Linked DNA regions of Homo sapiens: region 2 is linked to region 1. The links come from fine-mapping of genetic effects on gene expression. Tissue or cell type: whole blood. Region 1 holds a variant in brackets; the other region holds the start of a gene. All regions are shown on one strand. Distances are between the middles of the regions.

Region 1 (8,100 bases):
TGGCTTGGCTGCATGAGCTGCGAAGAGGAGAGTCCAGGCACAGGGCCAGGGGTGTGAGGGTACACTGGAGCTGGTGAAGCTTTTTGGAGGATCCCTGGGCTGTGCCTGAAGAGCTGAGCACCTGCCAGTCAACCTGCTGGATGCCTGGTGGAATAGTCCACTTAGATGTTTGTGTGGCACCAGTGACATGGCTATTGCTGCTCAGAGATGAGGAACCTGTCTCATGGCCCACAGCCTTCCTCGGCATGGTGTGGGCCATGGCACGGGGCTTGGGGGAGGCAGGGTGTGATGCAGGCATGTCCCCTTGTGGAGACATAGTGGGCAGTAGCTGTTTTCCCAAGTGCTGCTGCCCTCCGGTTCCTACCGGTTCCCTTGGTGGCAGCCCCAAATTCGTGGTTCGTGTTTGATCAGTGTCTGTTTTCCCACCACGTGTCTGGTCATTCTTGGGTCTCTGCCCCTTGTCTGGCACCGGGCAGACAGGAACTTGGGAAATACTGTTGGCTGGCGGGTGGGTTAGCCAGGATGGCTGCAGCAGGGCTTCTGAGGAGCTCGCTACTGAGTCAGGTCCTTCATTTCCTACCTTATTCATCCTGGAACCCCGCGGTGACTTTGATGTTATTACCCCTCCCGCCAGCGAGGCCCTGAGGTCCCAGAAAGTACGTGAAGTGACCGGCTGGGTTTCTTGGCCTCCTACCCCACTCATGCCACAGCGTCTTAGGAGGGCTGTTGAATTTTGCAGCAAACACGTTGGCCAAAGAAGTCTCCCCTGATGGCATTGGTCTCTGTTTCAGATCATCACTGCCCTGGAGGAGGATGGCACGGCCCAGAAGATGCAGCTGGGCTATCGGCTCCAGCAGATTGCAGCTGCTGTGGAAAACAAGGTCACAGATCTATAGGAACCCAGGAGCCACGGCCTGCTGTTGCTTCAGCCTGGCCTGGGCAGCCCTGGAAGCTCGGAGGAGAGGCCACCTTCTTAGGTGCCTGTAGTGACTGACAAGCAGAGTTAGTGGAAGGTGACTCCCAGTCTCCTGGTGGCTCTGGCCTCGGCCCTGCTGGATCCACCTCCTAGACCCGGGGCCTCAAGGCTCATGGGGTAGTACCCAGCCTGCTCCCCGAGTCCAGCGACCCTGTGACACCGGTCTGCAGGGAGTTGGGGACTAAGGGCTTCCAGAGAGTGGCTGGAAGAGACTCCAGGCCCCTGGGGAGACTGTACTGTTCCTGAACACTGGCCTTGGCCACACTGGGATTCGGAGAGGAAGGAGGAGAGCCCCATGCTTCCTGTCTGCCTCCTCCACCATCCCTGACCTCAGTTGAGCTGCCTCTGGCCTTGTTGCTGCTGCCACATCCTAGGTCTAAGAGTTGAACGCCTCTCCTAGGCCACTACAAACTGACCCCTCAGCAGGGCTGGCTGCCACAGGGCTGCCCTGCCTCATAGGTAGCCATGGTGAGGGCTATCTGCTGCAGGGGGGTCTTGGGGAGAGTGGTGACTCCATTGACCCAGCTTTTCATTAAAGGATAACACACTGCACTGAGTCTGATGTGTGAGCCCGGCCTAGCCCCTGGCTACTAGGAGGACGGCAGCTATGCCCAGCAGGTACCAGGGGGAGGTGGTATCTATACTCTTGGGGAGTCTCATGGTTCCCCATCATATCCCAGACTGCAGGGCTGGCTGAGGCTCTCCTTGACGCCTGGGCAGGGTCTGGTGGGGTCAAAGCTTCCGTGAAGGAAGAACCCCATCTGGGGCAGGGCGGGTGACCGAGATAGAGGGGTCTACAGTCTCTTCAAGGGGGCCTGCTTTATCTGCAGTTTGCGTATTCTCACTTCTCCACTCATGTTCTATTTATCTTGAAAGGGACTAGGAAAGGATGACATAATTACAGGCAACTCTAGGCAGAGGGGGTCTCGAGGGCCATTTTCCATGGTCCTGTTCCTGGACTTAGGGTTTCTGTGTTGCCTTCCAAATCAGGGCATCCTAGGGCCGGCTCCTAAACTGTCTGCCTCCATGAAGGCCGCCTTATATGGTTCTTCCTGATTTGTACCTGGAGGTGAGCTTGGAGACTGTCTTATCTGGTCTCATGTTGCTAGTTGGGTCTGTAGGGCAGGGGGTTGATACTCCTCTTGACTTGAGACCACCCTCGGCCTTAGCAGAAGGCCAGCCCCCCATGGAACAGAAGAGATAGGGTGGCAGCTCTGCCTGGCAGATGAGAGGAAGGCCCTTCAGCCTTGAGGCCTTCAGAGGGATCATCCCTTTGGCCCTCTGCTTATCCTCCATAACCCAGTGACCCTTAGCATTTCCTCTCGTCTGGCACAGAGACCACAACCTCCCCTCGAGGTCTTCATTGAGTGTTTAGAGAGAGACAGACTGATAGAATTCCAGGAGGACTCCTATCCCCTGCCTTTTTTTGGCCCTAAATAAAGCCATCCACTGTAGGGTTGCCCCTACAATCCACAAAGTCCTTGTCCCTAAGGAGCCATGTTGGTCTTGTCTGTGCCGGGGGTAGTCATAGCTGCTATTCTTCGCTGTGGCTCCATTGTCCCTTCTTTCCCATTTCTGCCGGATGTGGGGACCACAGTCAGGTCAGCAGCCAGGTGCCATCATTTGGGAGCATGTGAGCTTGGATGCTCTGGCCAGGTTTTCATAGCCACCCAGAATGGTCCTGACTTTTCCCGTTGGAGACCATGGAATGGGTCTCCATCTTGACCATCTCTGGGAGCAGGGTGGATGGGAAATCCACTTGAGGGTGGACTTCAAGCAGACACAGAGGGAAGCAGCCTTGGTCAGCACCACAGACCTCGACAGAGCCATGCCTCTGTTCCAGAGGCCTCTCTGTTCCAGGTTCAGGCCCCTGCAGGTTTTAGGGGTAGGTGAAGGCTCCCGGGAGAGGGGGGCCATGTGCCTGCAAGCCTGGGCACGTGCCCGCGGGAGGGGTGAGTACTGAACGTGCTTTGAGTCACTCACTGAGTCATGGCTCAGCCGCCACAGAACATTGTTATAATAACAGACATAGAGAAGAAAAACCTGGCACAAGAAGATAGGAAATTCTGTCTTCACTCCAAACCATGACCAAGAATGGAGATTCCAACACCAGCAAGAATTTGTGATCGCTTAACTTGGGTCATGACCACAATTTCAGCATAGAACATTTGTAATTCAGTTTGATCAATCTTTTCCTAATTTTTATTAAGACTGCAACGAAAGTGTGCCCTCATTATTACATTTTTCACAAACCTGTTAGCATACAAAGGGCCTTTGTTTCTCATTACCACCCGGGGCTCCTTAAGGCGTTTTATGGAGTGATGTGCTTTATTAAAAAGCGTTTTCACCAACTTAAAAGTTGGAATAATTGTCCAAATGGTTACATGACCCAGGAGTTCTATATTTTTATTAATTTTCTGATACTGAAATAATCGTGCTAATTAAGATAACAGCTGAATTTATGCTGATGAATGTTGGAATTCTTAGAAGCCACCTGAAACCTTCCAAATGGTCAGGACCTGGATCCCACTGGCCAGTGCCAACAGGTGACTCTGGGTGGTGCTGGGGGATACAGGGAACCTAGCTGTGTTCTGCTTGGCACCAATGGCTGCTGATGCATGTGTTTCCTCCACCAGGTTCCCTAAGGATGCCACATTGAAGAACAAATACACCCCAAACTACCTAGGTCAGCTGACTGGCGATGTTTTATGGATCTCTCTTTAAAAGTGTTCTGTCGGCCAGGCGCAGTGGCTCACCCCTGTAATCCCAACACTTTGGGAGGCCGAGGCAGGCGGATCATCTGAGGTCAGGAGTTTGAGACCAGCCTGCCCAACATGGCAAAACCCCGTCTCTTCTAAAAATACAAAAAATTAGCCAGGTGTGGTGGCGGGCGCCTCTCATCCCAGCTACTCAGGAGGCTGAGACAGGAGAATCGCTTGAACCCGGGAGGCGGAGGTTGCACTGAGTCGAGATCGCGCCACTGCACTCCAGCCTGGGTGACGAGCAAAACTCCATCTCAAAAAAAAAAAAAAAAAAGTGTTCTCTGTCTTAATTAAGGATGATGGTTTATCCAATTCCAAATGTTTACCAAAAATCTAAGATAAGGATATCACCATGATGTTTGAAAGAGAATTTATGCCCTGGTTGTGATGTTGGGGTTTTATTGATAAGAGTTTCAGTTATCTGGATGATATGTGCACGTGTAAGGAAACAGAATGGTTTGCCAGTTGTCCAGGTGGCCATGAAGAGAACCTCTGGAGGTCTAGGAATGTGAAGCTCAGATTTTGGAAACCTGGTCCGGTGTCCTGGGCCACAGGTAAGTGGCTGAAGCTGGTGGTTTGCTGCCATCTTCT[G/A]GCCATAGTGTGGAATTTATCAGAAGCAGCTACCAATGAGGGTGTCTGGAGCTCTATAAATTGCAAGCCTGGGCAAGATAGCCAGACCCCATCTTTACGAAAACTGTTTAAAAATTAGCTGGGCATGGTAGCACACATCTGTAGTCTCAGCTATTTAAGAGGTTGAGGTGGGAGGATTGCTGGACTCCAGGAGTTTGAGGCTGCAGTGAAAGATTATGCCACTCCACTCCAGACTGGGTGACAGTGAGACCCTGTCTCTTCAAAAAAAGAGAGAGAGAAATCACAACAGTGGAATTCAGTAGTGCTGGAGCTTAGTGAGTAATCTTACCCTGTCTTTAACGTGAATTCTGGTTTTAGGGTGAGCTATGTCTTAGGACATAGTTGAGATAACAGTGAGTGACTAGTCAAGAAAACAGCCGGGCACAGTGGCTCACACCTGTAATCCCAGCACTTTGGGAGGCCAAGGTGGGTGGATCACTTGAGGTCAGGAGTTCGAGACCACCCTGATCAACATGGTGAAACCCCATCTCTACTGAAAATACAGAAATTAGCCGGGTGTGATTGTGTGCACCTGTGATCCCAGCTACTGGGGAGGCTGAGGAAGGAAAATCACTTGAACCTGGGAGGCAGAGGTTTCAGTGAGCTGAGATTATGCCACCACACTCCAGCCTGAGCTGAGATTATGCCACCACACTCCAGCCTGAGCTGAGATTATGCCACCACACTCCAGCCTGAGCAGCAGAATGAGACTCTGTCTCAAAAAGAAAACAACAACAACAACAACAAAAAACCAGAAACCACTCTAGGTGTTTCCAATGGAAGGAATTTAAATATAAGGGATTGATTATGAAAGTGTGTGAAGGACAAAAAGGGGAGTAGTTATCCAGCGGTGAGTGACTATAGAAGCCTCTGTCACCTATAAGCTGGCAAAGGGGGCAGCAGTGTTACCCACAGCCTCTGACTGCTGAGTCAGTGGCGCCCGTGGGAAGCCAGGAGCTGCATGCTGGCTGACGCTGCAGGTGCCTGGGAACCTGCTAACCTGGCCCCTCCACCCATGCTGGTGAGTTGGTGCTGCTGGGGCACCTGCTGCCCTAGTGAATGGGTGCCACCAGGAAGAGAGGATTCAAGCCTGTCTTGCTCAAGACCTCCTCCACCACCAGACTTGCCTCAAGATCTCAGGCCCAAGAAGCCCCAGGGAGTGGAGTGACAGGAGCCTTGCTCTGGGAGGCAGGAGACCTGGATTCTAGTTCCTCCTCCTCTCACTGACTGGGCCTCTGGAGAGAAGGGCAGGGACATTCTGGCATGTGGCAGGAGCCACTCTGTGTCATGGGGTTGGATCCCAAGCTGGCACCTGGCAGGATTTAATGAAGAAACATTTATCAAGTGCTGGATCAGTCCAGCTCCTGGCAGGAAACTGACAGCATGTACCAGGAAAGATGCAGCTGGAAGAGAGTTTAATGAGGGGACTACTTACAGAGCTGCAGGCTCTGGGAAGCCAATAAGGGATGGTGAAGCACAGCTGTTACCAGTCCTGGGCTCTAGGGGTAGGGACAGAGTAGTCATCAGGACCAGTGGGGCTGTGGCTAAAGGTGGAAGCTTCAGAGGGAGGATGCTGGGGGAATAATTACCCTGGCCTCTTGTTCCTCCCCACTGCCCAGACTCCTGCCAGCCCGTCCCGTTGGCCAAGCCACCTGAAAGCCAGAGGGCAGGGGAGCCTGAATGGCAGGGCAGCCTCTGGACTGCTGAGTGGTGAAGAAGTGGGCAGAAAACTGCCTCTGGCCTGAGGACCTGCTGTCCTGGGAGGCACCTAGCAGGTGCTTTGTCATTCAAGGCCACAAGGTCACGGCCATAGCAGTACTTGGTTTCCAGCCCCCTGGCTTGCAGAATTTTCCACCGCACTCCATGCCCTAGTGCTCCTTGGGCGGTGCTGCACTGTCCACCTGAAGGACCTTGGAAACACCAAATTTTGGGGGCTGACTGGGCCTCTTCACCTTATCTCCAGGTTGGGTGGGATGCTGGGTGTGCAAATAGGGACCCAAGGAAGACTCCACACTACAGGCTGTGTCTACAGCTTCATCTCAGGGCAGAAGTCAGCAGGGCCAGGCACAGACCCATCCGGAGCTGGGGGAGGGGCAGGACGCCTGGTTCTCTACACCCAAAGAAATGTGTGTGGGGCACTCCCAAGCCCCCACGCAGAGACAAACCCTCGCGCCTGCGCCCAGCCCAGGTTGCTGACTGGAGTGGAGGCAGCAGAACTCTGTGTGTGTGTGTGTCTGTGTGTTTGATGTATATGTTTGAAGTGTGTGTGTAGCATTGGGGACAGGCAGAGGCTCTGCTCAATGGGGAATGATGTTCTGGTGGAACACCCCATGGACTTGGAGCTTGAGAAGTGGGCTTTGGCCAGGCCCTGGCACTGACCACCTAGGAACAGTCATCTTTTCCAAGCTTCTGGTTCCTCTTCTGTAAGGTGTGAGTCCCTAACCACCTTTCCAAAGACAGCATCCTGTGCAAGCTGTCACGGGAGGGGGAAGGGCCCTGGTGACCCTCAGGGCCTCTAGAGCCTGTGGGCAAGAGCTGGCCCTCCATGCCAAGGTGCCAGGCCTAACCCTGGTGAAGAGTGACCCAACTGGGCGACTGCCTGAGGCCTCAGAGGAGGACAAGGAGAAGGTGCACAGCAGCAGGGTGCACACCTTGCCCTGGCCTCTCCTAGGGTAGAGGACGGTGTGAGCCCCCAGAGGCTGTCATCCAGCCTGAGAGGTTTCTTGGCTCTTCCTCCCATGCCCAGGGTTCTCCCAGACTGCAGAGCAAGATCCAGGCTCCACACAATGCCAGAGGCCCTGCCTCTATCTTCTCTCTGGCCAGCGGCCCTATCGCTAACCCCACACATGAAGGATACTGCTTTGGCATCATCGTTTGTGAGGGCCAGGCTGGGGAAGGGTGGAGAGAGTGTCCTTCCCTGGGGAGGCTGAACCCAGGGAGATGGAGTGACATGCCCCAAAAACACAGCAAGTGGGACTAGAACCCATGTCTCCAGATGGAACCCCAGGCTCCCACTGCTCCATGCTGTGCAGGTTACACCTCCCACCCTGCCGCTCTCTCCGGGGGCCTCAGTCCACCTCCTGAGCCCATGTCCTCAGTCCATGATTGGACCGGGTCCCTGGGTCCCTTGGAGGACCAGCCAAGCCCAGGTCCTTCTTTGCTTCTTACTCCCCACCCCAGTCTCCTTGTTCTTCAGTCTTTTGCTTTCCCACTGGCTCCCTTCTCACACCTCCCATGGCTGTGCCCATTTCTCCTTTTAACTCTGTCAACTTTTGGATCCTATATTTGAAGCAAGGCATGCATATATATTTTAAATTTTATTATCTCTGTTTTGATCTTTTTGTCATAAAAAATTCGTTTTTATTTCTAATAATACTTCCTGCCTTAAAGTCTACATTTCCTGTTTGAATGATGTTCAGTGTCCATTGTGTAAATTCTCATGTGGTAATTTCCTTTAAGAAATTATTGAGGGGCCAGGCACAGTGGCACATGCCTGTAATCCCAGCACTTTGAGAGGCTGTGGTGGGATAATTTCTTGAGCCCAGGAGTTCGAGACCAGCCTGGGAAGCATGGCAAAACCCTGTCTCTACAAAAAAAAAAACAAAAATTAGCCAGGGGTGTTGGTGCATACCTGTAATCCCAGTTACTCAGGAGGCTGAGGTGGGAGGATCACATGAGCCTGGGAGGTTGAGGCTGCAGTGAGTCAAGATTGCACCACTGCACTCCAGCTTG
Region 2 (8,100 bases), 28 kb before region 1:
CATTCATTCAGCATGGGTCTATGGAACATGTACTCTGCCAGGCACAAGGTAGTGAGCCATCTGCTGGTGGCTATAGCTGCAGGGCCACCTTGTGCCCATGTAATCCAATAACATGGCTTTGCTTCTGCAGGAGGAGAAGAGGCTTCGCACAGCCTATCTGCGTGCAGAAGACTCTGAGCGAGAGAAGTTCTCCCTCTTCTCTGCAGCTGTGCGGGAAAGTCATGAGAAGGAGCGCACAAGGGCTGAGAGGACCAAGAACTGGTCCCTCATTGGCTCAGTCCTGGGGGCCCTGATTGGTGTGGCTGGCTCCACCTATGTGAACCGTGTGCGACTACAGGAGCTGAAGGCTTTACTCCTGGAGGCGCAGAAGGGGCCTGTGAGTCTCCAAGAGGCCATTCGAGAACAGGCGTCTAGCTACTCCCGCCAGCAGAGGGACCTCCACAATCTCATGGTGGACCTGAGGGGCCTGGTACATGCTGCTGGGCCAGGGCAGGACTCTGGGTCACAGGCAGGTAGTCCCCCGACCAGAGACAGAGATGTAGATGTCCTTTCAGCTGCCTTGAAAGAGCAGCTTAGTCATTCCAGGCAAGTCCATTCATGTCTAGAAGGCTTACGAGAGCAGCTTGATGGCCTAGAAAAGACTTGTAGCCAAATGGCTGGGGTGGTTCAGCTTGTAAAGTCTGCAGCACACCCAGGCCTGGTGGAACCAGCAGACGGGGCTATGCCCAGCTTCTTGCTGGAGCAGGGGAGCATGATCTTGGCACTGTCAGACACGGAGCAGAGACTAGAAGCCCAAGTCAACAGGAACACCATCTATAGCACCCTGGTCACCTGTGTGACATTTGTGGCCACACTGCCTGTGCTCTACATGCTATTCAAAGCCAGCTAACCCCTGGCCCCTCCTCCAGAGGGTCTGAGGCAATAGCTGTGAATGTGGATTTAAGTAGAGAATCGTAGCAATGAAGCGAGCCTTTGGGGGCATGTACAACCTCAATCTGAAGGAGCAGTATCTGTGTGGCTCACCAGCAGGCATGCTTCGCTTTGTAGACAAGGTTCATTTACATTAATTATCAAAACTTTGTGCTAATGTCCAATTAAAATATCCTGAGTTTTATTATTTAAAACAATCAGACTGAGTTTTTTTCATTAAGAATCAAGATCCAAGACTTGAAGGTTGGGCCTGGAGTTGGGGTAGTCACCCCCTTTAGTTCCTCTCTCATCTCCTCTCTGTCCTCTTTTCTGAACTGTTATGGATGCACTCCTGAGGCCTAGATTTTCATTTTGGATTTCCTCCAGTTACCTGACTGTCCGGTGTCAGATGGCCTGGGAGTTCCAGTGAGTGGAACCTAGCCTGCTGCCTACTCATTTCGTGACCATGGTTGCTTCCCATCTCCTGGATCACTTTCTCTACCATGTGGGGGAGAACTTCCTGGTTCTAGTACTGGAGGAGTGATCAGAGGAGAGCAGGGAAGGGAGATTGGGAGAATGGTTGATAAATGTTGCTGGGGACATAAGTATAGGGATTGGTGGCCAGTCTGGATCCCTGGTACAGAGATTGCTTTGGGCAGCAGTGGTGTGCCACGGGGGCTGGGTGCACACCCCCACACAGCCCGGGGATATCTTCCACAGGCATAGGCAGAGCTCAGGACACCGGGAGTGTGCATGGAGAGGCAGTGATAGGGAGGGGGGGGTCTCCCACAGGTGGGAGGTGCAGTGGGGCATATGTATGATCTCTTTTCAGAGGGGAACAGTGACCCTTGACCTTGACTAAATGGCCATGGGTGGCCTTGTGTGCCCTGAGTAAACAGGAGCTTTGGGCTGGTATTCAGTCCTGGTGTTGGAGTATTGGAAGTCAGGCACATTCCAGAGAACCCACTCCCCTTTGAGAGCGCAGGGTAGCTATATGCAGGGGGGCCGCAGGTGGGGACTCGTTCACTGGTGCCTGTGCAGAGCTCTCAGAGCCTGTGGAGTCAGGAGTGTTTCCCATAAGGCATACTTTCTTCTTGGAGCCTGTGTTCAGTCTTGGGCAGTGAGCATGGCCCAAATGCCCCCCACCCCAGGTTCTCAGCACCTGGTCCCTCAGTCAATCTATCCTTGGCGAGTAATGGCTCCCCAGAATGGCATGGGATGGAAAGACCCCTGTGCTTAGAGTGTTCACATTCCTTGTAGGGCAGGAGGTAGCGTATCTGTGTACAGATGAAAGGGGTTGTGGGGTTTGGAAGTCCCAGTTTCCTCTGGGGTGAGATAGGTCCTGAAGTGTGTGCTTGGATGAATGGATTTGGGGAGGGAGGGATTCTGTGCATGTGGAGGGGGCTGCTACAAGCTACATAGGCAGGAAAGCCAAAGTGGGTGAGGGACTGGGGCAGACTGTCCTGGCTGGGGTGGTGATGGGTGTGGGGGAGTTGTGCAGAATGATGTCACAGGCCCGGGGTGCCAGGTTGGCAGTCTGAGGTCAGAGGCTAAGGGTGAGGGATCCAGGGAGGGATTGCTATGCTGGTGCAGACAAGGTGCTAAGCACCTGGACTCAGGTGCTGGAAGTGGGAGTGGAGGAAAAGGGGTGACCTGACAGGAGACCCTTGATAGCTGGTGGGAGGTGGGAAGAGGGTGTCTCTAGCTCTAGGGCAGTAGCCAGTGTGGATGACCTGAACCTCCTGATTGAGGCTCCCCTAGCCTGTGGAGGCCTTGGAGGCTTTCAGATGATGCCTGTGACGTTTTTGCCTCCCAGGAAGCTGTGCCAATGGCTTTGAGCCAAAGTCCTCCAAAAGTCCTAATAGGATGGGCCAGGTTCTGGTCCTGAGTTAGCCGTGGGCATGCCAGGGTGTGAAGGGCCCTGCACAGGGTACAAATGGTCCCCAGGAGAGAACCTTTCTGCCAGCGTTTCCTCCCGCAGAAGGCCCAGGTGTTTGCCAGTGAGGGAGCCCAGACTTGCCCAACGCTTCTCAGCTTGGGGTGGGTCCAGGTCTGGGTCCTGGGCTGGGAAGAAAGGAAGGAAGTGAGCCCTTGCTTGTGCGCCTCTGCAGCCCAGGTTCCCTGCCTTCACAGCCCCGCTAGAGGTGGGATCACCCCCACTTACTGGTGAGCAAATAGGCTGGGGGGGGTTGGTGTCAGGTTACATGGTTTAGTTGATGGCGCAAGCCCAGGTCCAAAGCCCATGCTCTTCTCAAACAGCCAGAGGTGGGGGCCGGAAGGAGGGATTGGCTGTTGGGGAGTAGTGGGAGCAGGGGCGGTGAGCAGGGGCGGTGGGCAGGGCCAGGTGCGCAGGGGAGAAACAAGGCGCCTTGGAGTTCAGGTAAAGAAAGTTGGGGAGGATGACCACCGGAGCCGGGTAAGGAAGGGAAAGGGAGCTCCGGGCGCGGGGCGAGGCCGGGCGCTGGCAGAAGAACGGGTCGGGCTGGTGAGGGACTCGGGTGCTACCCGGCTCTGGACGGGCGGGAAGAGGCCGGGACGCTGTTCCACCAGCACCTGCGGGTGCGGAGCGCGACCCCCCGCCTCGGCTCCTGGCAACCAGGAAAGTTCCCAGTTCCGGTTCCAAGGAGGCGAGCAGGTGAGGCCGACGGGGCGGGGCGGCTCTGGCTCCCGGGGTTCACTCCTCACCCCTCCGGGCGACCCGCGTTGCCATGGCGACCGCCGCGGTGCAGCCCGCCCCCGCCCTCCCCCGTGCGGGAGGGGTCGGGTCCCCAGCCCTCGGCCGATGCGGAGCCCGCGGGGCTGGAATGCGGGGTCCCGGGCGGTTCGGGGCCGCGCGCCCGGCTCTCCGGGCTGCTTCCGGCCTGGCCCGGGCGGCGGGCGGGGGGAGGGCAGCCCGGCAGGCGAGGGGGAAGGAGCGGAGACGAGCCCGGCCGACGCGGCTTTGTCTCCTTTGTTCCCGGCGGTGGCAGCGCCGCGCGGGAGGGGCGGGCAGCGGGCGCAGTTTTCCGCCCCTCGGTCTCCGGGTAACAGCTGCGGCTCCGCCAGACCCGGGGAGAGGCCGCTGCGCGCGGAGCCCGAGCCCGGAGCGGCCGACGCCCGCCTCGGCGCGCACATCCCGCGGGGCCCGGCCGGGTGGTGAGTGCGGGGCTCGGGGCCAGGGCGGCGAGGAACGGGGCTCCCGAGGTGGAACGGGCCGGGGCCCCGATCCCGCCGGGCAGGGGCGGCCTGGGTGAGTGGTGGGCGGCTTTGGTTTTGAGAGTTGGGACCACACTTCTCCGCGCGAAGGGAAACTCTGGCGACTCCGCCTGGAACGCGATTGGGAGACTGAGGAGGTGGAGCTGCTCCTCCGCGCCCCCTCCTCGCCGTCGCCGCCGGGGACCGGCCGGCCCCTTCCCCGCCCTCCCAGGGCCAGTGATGGGGTCCTCGCCTCGGGGTCTGGGGGTTGGGGAGGGTCAAGGACGAGCCGAGTGGGGAGGTCGGGGCTTCCCCTCAGTAGTAACAGCCCTTTCTGGCTGCTCCCGGTGGGACTGACAAAGGCGGACCTCGAGCCTCCTGACCCCCGGGCGGGTGGGGGGGACCCTCCTCTCCACACACAGACATATTAAGTGGGTGATCGATGAGCGCCTTGGGTCATCGCAGGTGCCTGGTAAATGGTGGATCTCCCCACCCCTCCTCAACACACAGAAAACAGGGCGGGCAGCGGGCACCACTGCACTGTCAATGAATAACTCACCTCTGTAGTGAACCCTGGGAGCTGAGCAGGAGGGTGAAACGGGAAGGCCGGTTTCCCACTAACTGGCAGGCAAGGCAAATGTGGGCTGTCCTATGGCCCCTCTGCAGGTGCGGAATGGCGGGGTTTGTGAGCCCCTTTTGTTGTCGAGGACAGCTCCACGGGGGTCCGGGAGGTGCTTGCTCTACAGACAGAAGTTGGGCAGTCTTGCGCCCCCTGAAAAGGTTCAGAGTAGGGTGGCCCCAGAAGAGACTCCAGGGCATGTGTGGGGGAGCACTGGGCACAGGCAGAGTTAGGCTTTGGCTGTGAGTCTGAGCAGGGCCTCAGATATTGGGAATGGGCAGGAGATCCTGGCTGTGTAAGTTGGGGATGTGAGGTCTGGTTCTAGATCAGCCTTTTCAGTCTGCCCTGGCCTGGTCATTAATAAAAGTGGGGCCAATGTGTTCCCTTTGAGAGACCAAGTGGCTTGGAGGGATTGTGGGCCCCCTATCTCCCCTACTTGTTGGGTTTTCTTGGGTGTGAAATGGGGGTTCGTTCACCATACAGGGAGCATCTGGTCTGTGCTGAAGTCTGTGTAAGTTGCTGGGGCCTCTGAATCAGAAGCCATACTCCCTGCCTTCAAGGAGCTTCAAGTCCAGAGTAGGAGGGTGGAACAGGGAGAAAGGTGACCCTGGTTGGCATCACTAATGCCAGGCACACACTGTTTCATGTTTACTGGTCAGAGCAATCCTGCCTCCCATTGTACAACTAGGAAATCTGAGGCTCGGAAAGCCTGAGGCAGAGCGGCCGTGCCTGTCAGGGTGGTGGCTAGGTGTGTCCATTCTGTCCACCGCATGCAGCGGCCTCCTCAGGAGCCTGGGAGGACAGGGGAGGCTCCCCAGGGAGAGGATGGTTGGTGTAGGAGTTAATGGGATAGCGAGGGAGTGGGCATTCCAGGCAGCGGCAAGAGCCTGTGCAGCGGTTGGAGGAGCCAAGCAGCCTGCAGTTCAGGCTGGCAGGAACGAAGGGCATGTGTGGGGGAGCACTGGCATGGATCGGGTGGGAGAGGTGTGGACTGGAGGGGTAGGCCTTTATCCCTCCCGCTCTGGGGTGCCCCAGAGGCTCTTGGGGGAGGGGTGTACTCAATTCTGCTCAAGGAAAGTCCTGAGAAGTTGGGAGTTGGGAGGCTAGATTGGAGGGGCTGGGAGCTGCTCAGTGGCCTGTGGCAGAGATTAAGTGAAATCCATGTGCCTGAAATGGAGGAGAAAAAGTCACTGCTCTTCTTTCTGTCCTCCTTCCGACACCCATGGTATGTGTGGAGGGGCAAGGGGTGCTAGGTCCTGATTCACAGGGAGACTGCTGGCAGAAGCCTGACCACTTTCCCTGGAGTGGGTCAGCGGCCGACCTCCTCAGTGGCCTGGCCAGGAGCTGTTCTGATCCCGCCCATTTCTTCCTGTTGTCTCCTCATCCAGTGTTTTTTTTTTGTTTTTGTTTTTAACCATTTTTTCATCTCCCAAGGCTCTGTCATGCATCAATGCAGTTTTGATTTCACATATGGGGAGTGGTTTTGTTACTGCCCCTTGAGGGCTGGAGAACTTTGGCACGCAGTAGGCTCTGAGCAAATATTTGTAAGCATGTAGGAGTGAGTATTGGTCTAACTATGGGACCCTGTGCCCAAGGCCCATCCCTGGCATGCGGTGGCAGGAGAATTGAACAGTAGCCCCTTGCAAGAGGTGGCCTCTGCCCATCCTCAGGTGGACTCTGTCTTCCCATGGGAAGAAACTTTCTTTCCTCATCCCTTGGAAACTAGGTGGGGGGCTCTTGGGCAGCCTGGTCTTGCCACAGTCCTGGGATCCTGGCCGGGTTCGAGACTTTCCCTGCTGCCCCCTTCCCCCCGCCCCCTTGGGTGGCTAACAGAGGCAGCCTTGTTCCTGCTCCCATAGAGCTGCCCTGTTTTCTGCACACTAAAAATGGAAACCCCCAAGCTATTTCGGGAGCAGTGCCCAGCCAGGCTGTGACCACGGCCCCCCTGCTCCCACCGGGCTGTGGCCACAGTGTCCCGGCTTCCACCAGGCTGCTGGACCCTCCCCTGAGCCTTGTGCCCGGCCCTGTTCACTTCAGGGCAGCCTCAGGAGTACCCTGCTCAGGCCTCATCTGCTAGGATGAGCCGACCTGGGAGAAGCAAACGCTTGGGATATTTTGCACAGACAGCTTGGCAGCTGGGTGATGGGAGGGGCTGGGCAACGTGGCCTGGGCACAGGCAAGTAGGGGAAGTGTCTCCCAGTCTGAGATGCATTGTCTGTCCCAGCACTTCACCAACCTTGGTGCTCCTGGCTAGAGACCACTGGGGAAGGTGGTATTGCCATAGTTTCTTGGTTCAGGGACTCAGGAGCCTCAGCTGGGGCCCAAGAAGGGGTCTGTGTGGAAAGCAGGCACCCAAAGTCTGGGGAGGTCCTGGGGATGGGCCTGGGAACAGCCAGGCATGGCACCTTCCTCCAGGACACACTCCACTTACCCCACATCTTGGGCCCTGGCACTATTCTGAACTGCAGGAGAGGAAATAGCAAGAGATGGCCTAGCTTCTACAGCTCTCTAGTACGTAGGGCTCCAACTAAGTACTCTCAAACGAGGGGAGTGTGCCTGAGTGTGCGTGTGTATGTCTAAATGTGAGTGGTGGTCTGAATGTCTCGGGTGAGTGTGACATATGTGCCTGCAGTGTGTTTCTGTGTGGGGGAGTTGTCTCTATATGGATGTGTCTTCATGTGGTGTTTGAACATGGGTGGCTGTGTCTGTGTGTGTCACTGTGCTGTGTGTATAGATGGCATCTGCATCTCTCTCTCTCTGTGTGTGTGTGTGTGTGTGTGTGTGTGTGTTGTAGGCATATACATACAGGGTGGGTGGTGTGTATGTATCTTGCTGTGCGACTGCCTGTCTGCTGAAGCGCTGGTGGCCCTTTGGGCTGGGACAGCCCCTGGCTGTGTAGAGGGTGTGTACCTGGGTGCCTTTACAGGGTGGAGTTTGAGCAGAGAGAGGGACCTCACAGGGAGAAGGCCATGCTGGGGGCCTGGCTGGGCCCTGCCAGCCACGGGGCTCCTTCCTAGCTGACCTTTCCCAGGCCCCTCGGGTGCCTGGCTCTGCTGCCCTCCCCCTCCTCATGTGGGCTCTGAGGAGGCGTCCTCTGTGGAATGTGTTTGGTGGCCAGGGGCCAGGCTGGGCCCAGCTCCACCAGCAGGCTGGGCGGTGGGGAGGGGGTGCTTCTGTGCTGCCTCCCCGGTGGGGAGCCCAGGGCTTCCACGTGCCTGCAGCCCAGGCCCCGGCTTCACACTCGGCTTTCCCGCCTGCTAGGTGACTCCCACACGGGTCATGCTGTTGTCTCCTGATCCAGCCGGCCCTGCCAGGTGAGCCTGACCTCACACTAGATATCTAGGAGCAGCATGACTCCTACCTATTCTGAGGGCTCTCGGAGGTGGGGGGCAGCCCTT

What was found. PIP is the estimated chance that this variant, and not a neighbour inherited with it, causes the effect.
Region 2: it holds the start of PLXNB1, and the variant in region 1 is fine-mapped to the expression of PLXNB1 in whole blood (TOPMed, PIP 0.99).

The regions. Positions count from the first base shown.
Region 1 is chr3:48,397,282-48,405,381 of GRCh38, reverse strand. It overlaps PLXNB1 (plexin B1), which reads left to right. Exons shown (of 38, transcript NM_001130082.3): 38 at 792-1,528. The coding sequence ends at 896. Among named protein-coding and RNA genes, the nearest start is that of PLXNB1, 29 kb to the left of the region's middle. The variant G/A (reference allele first, on the strand shown) is at 4,330.
Region 2 is chr3:48,425,197-48,433,296 of GRCh38, reverse strand. PLXNB1 (plexin B1) reads left to right here and starts at 3,211. Exons shown (of 38, transcript NM_001130082.3): 1 at 3,211-3,289; 2 at 7,964-8,016. CCDC51 (coiled-coil domain containing 51) reads left to right here. Exons shown (of 4, transcript NM_001256964.2): 4 at 131-1,124. The coding sequence ends at 889. RefSeq lists enhancers at 545-594, 1-910, 2,264-3,257 and silencers at 3,498-4,097, 4,178-4,257.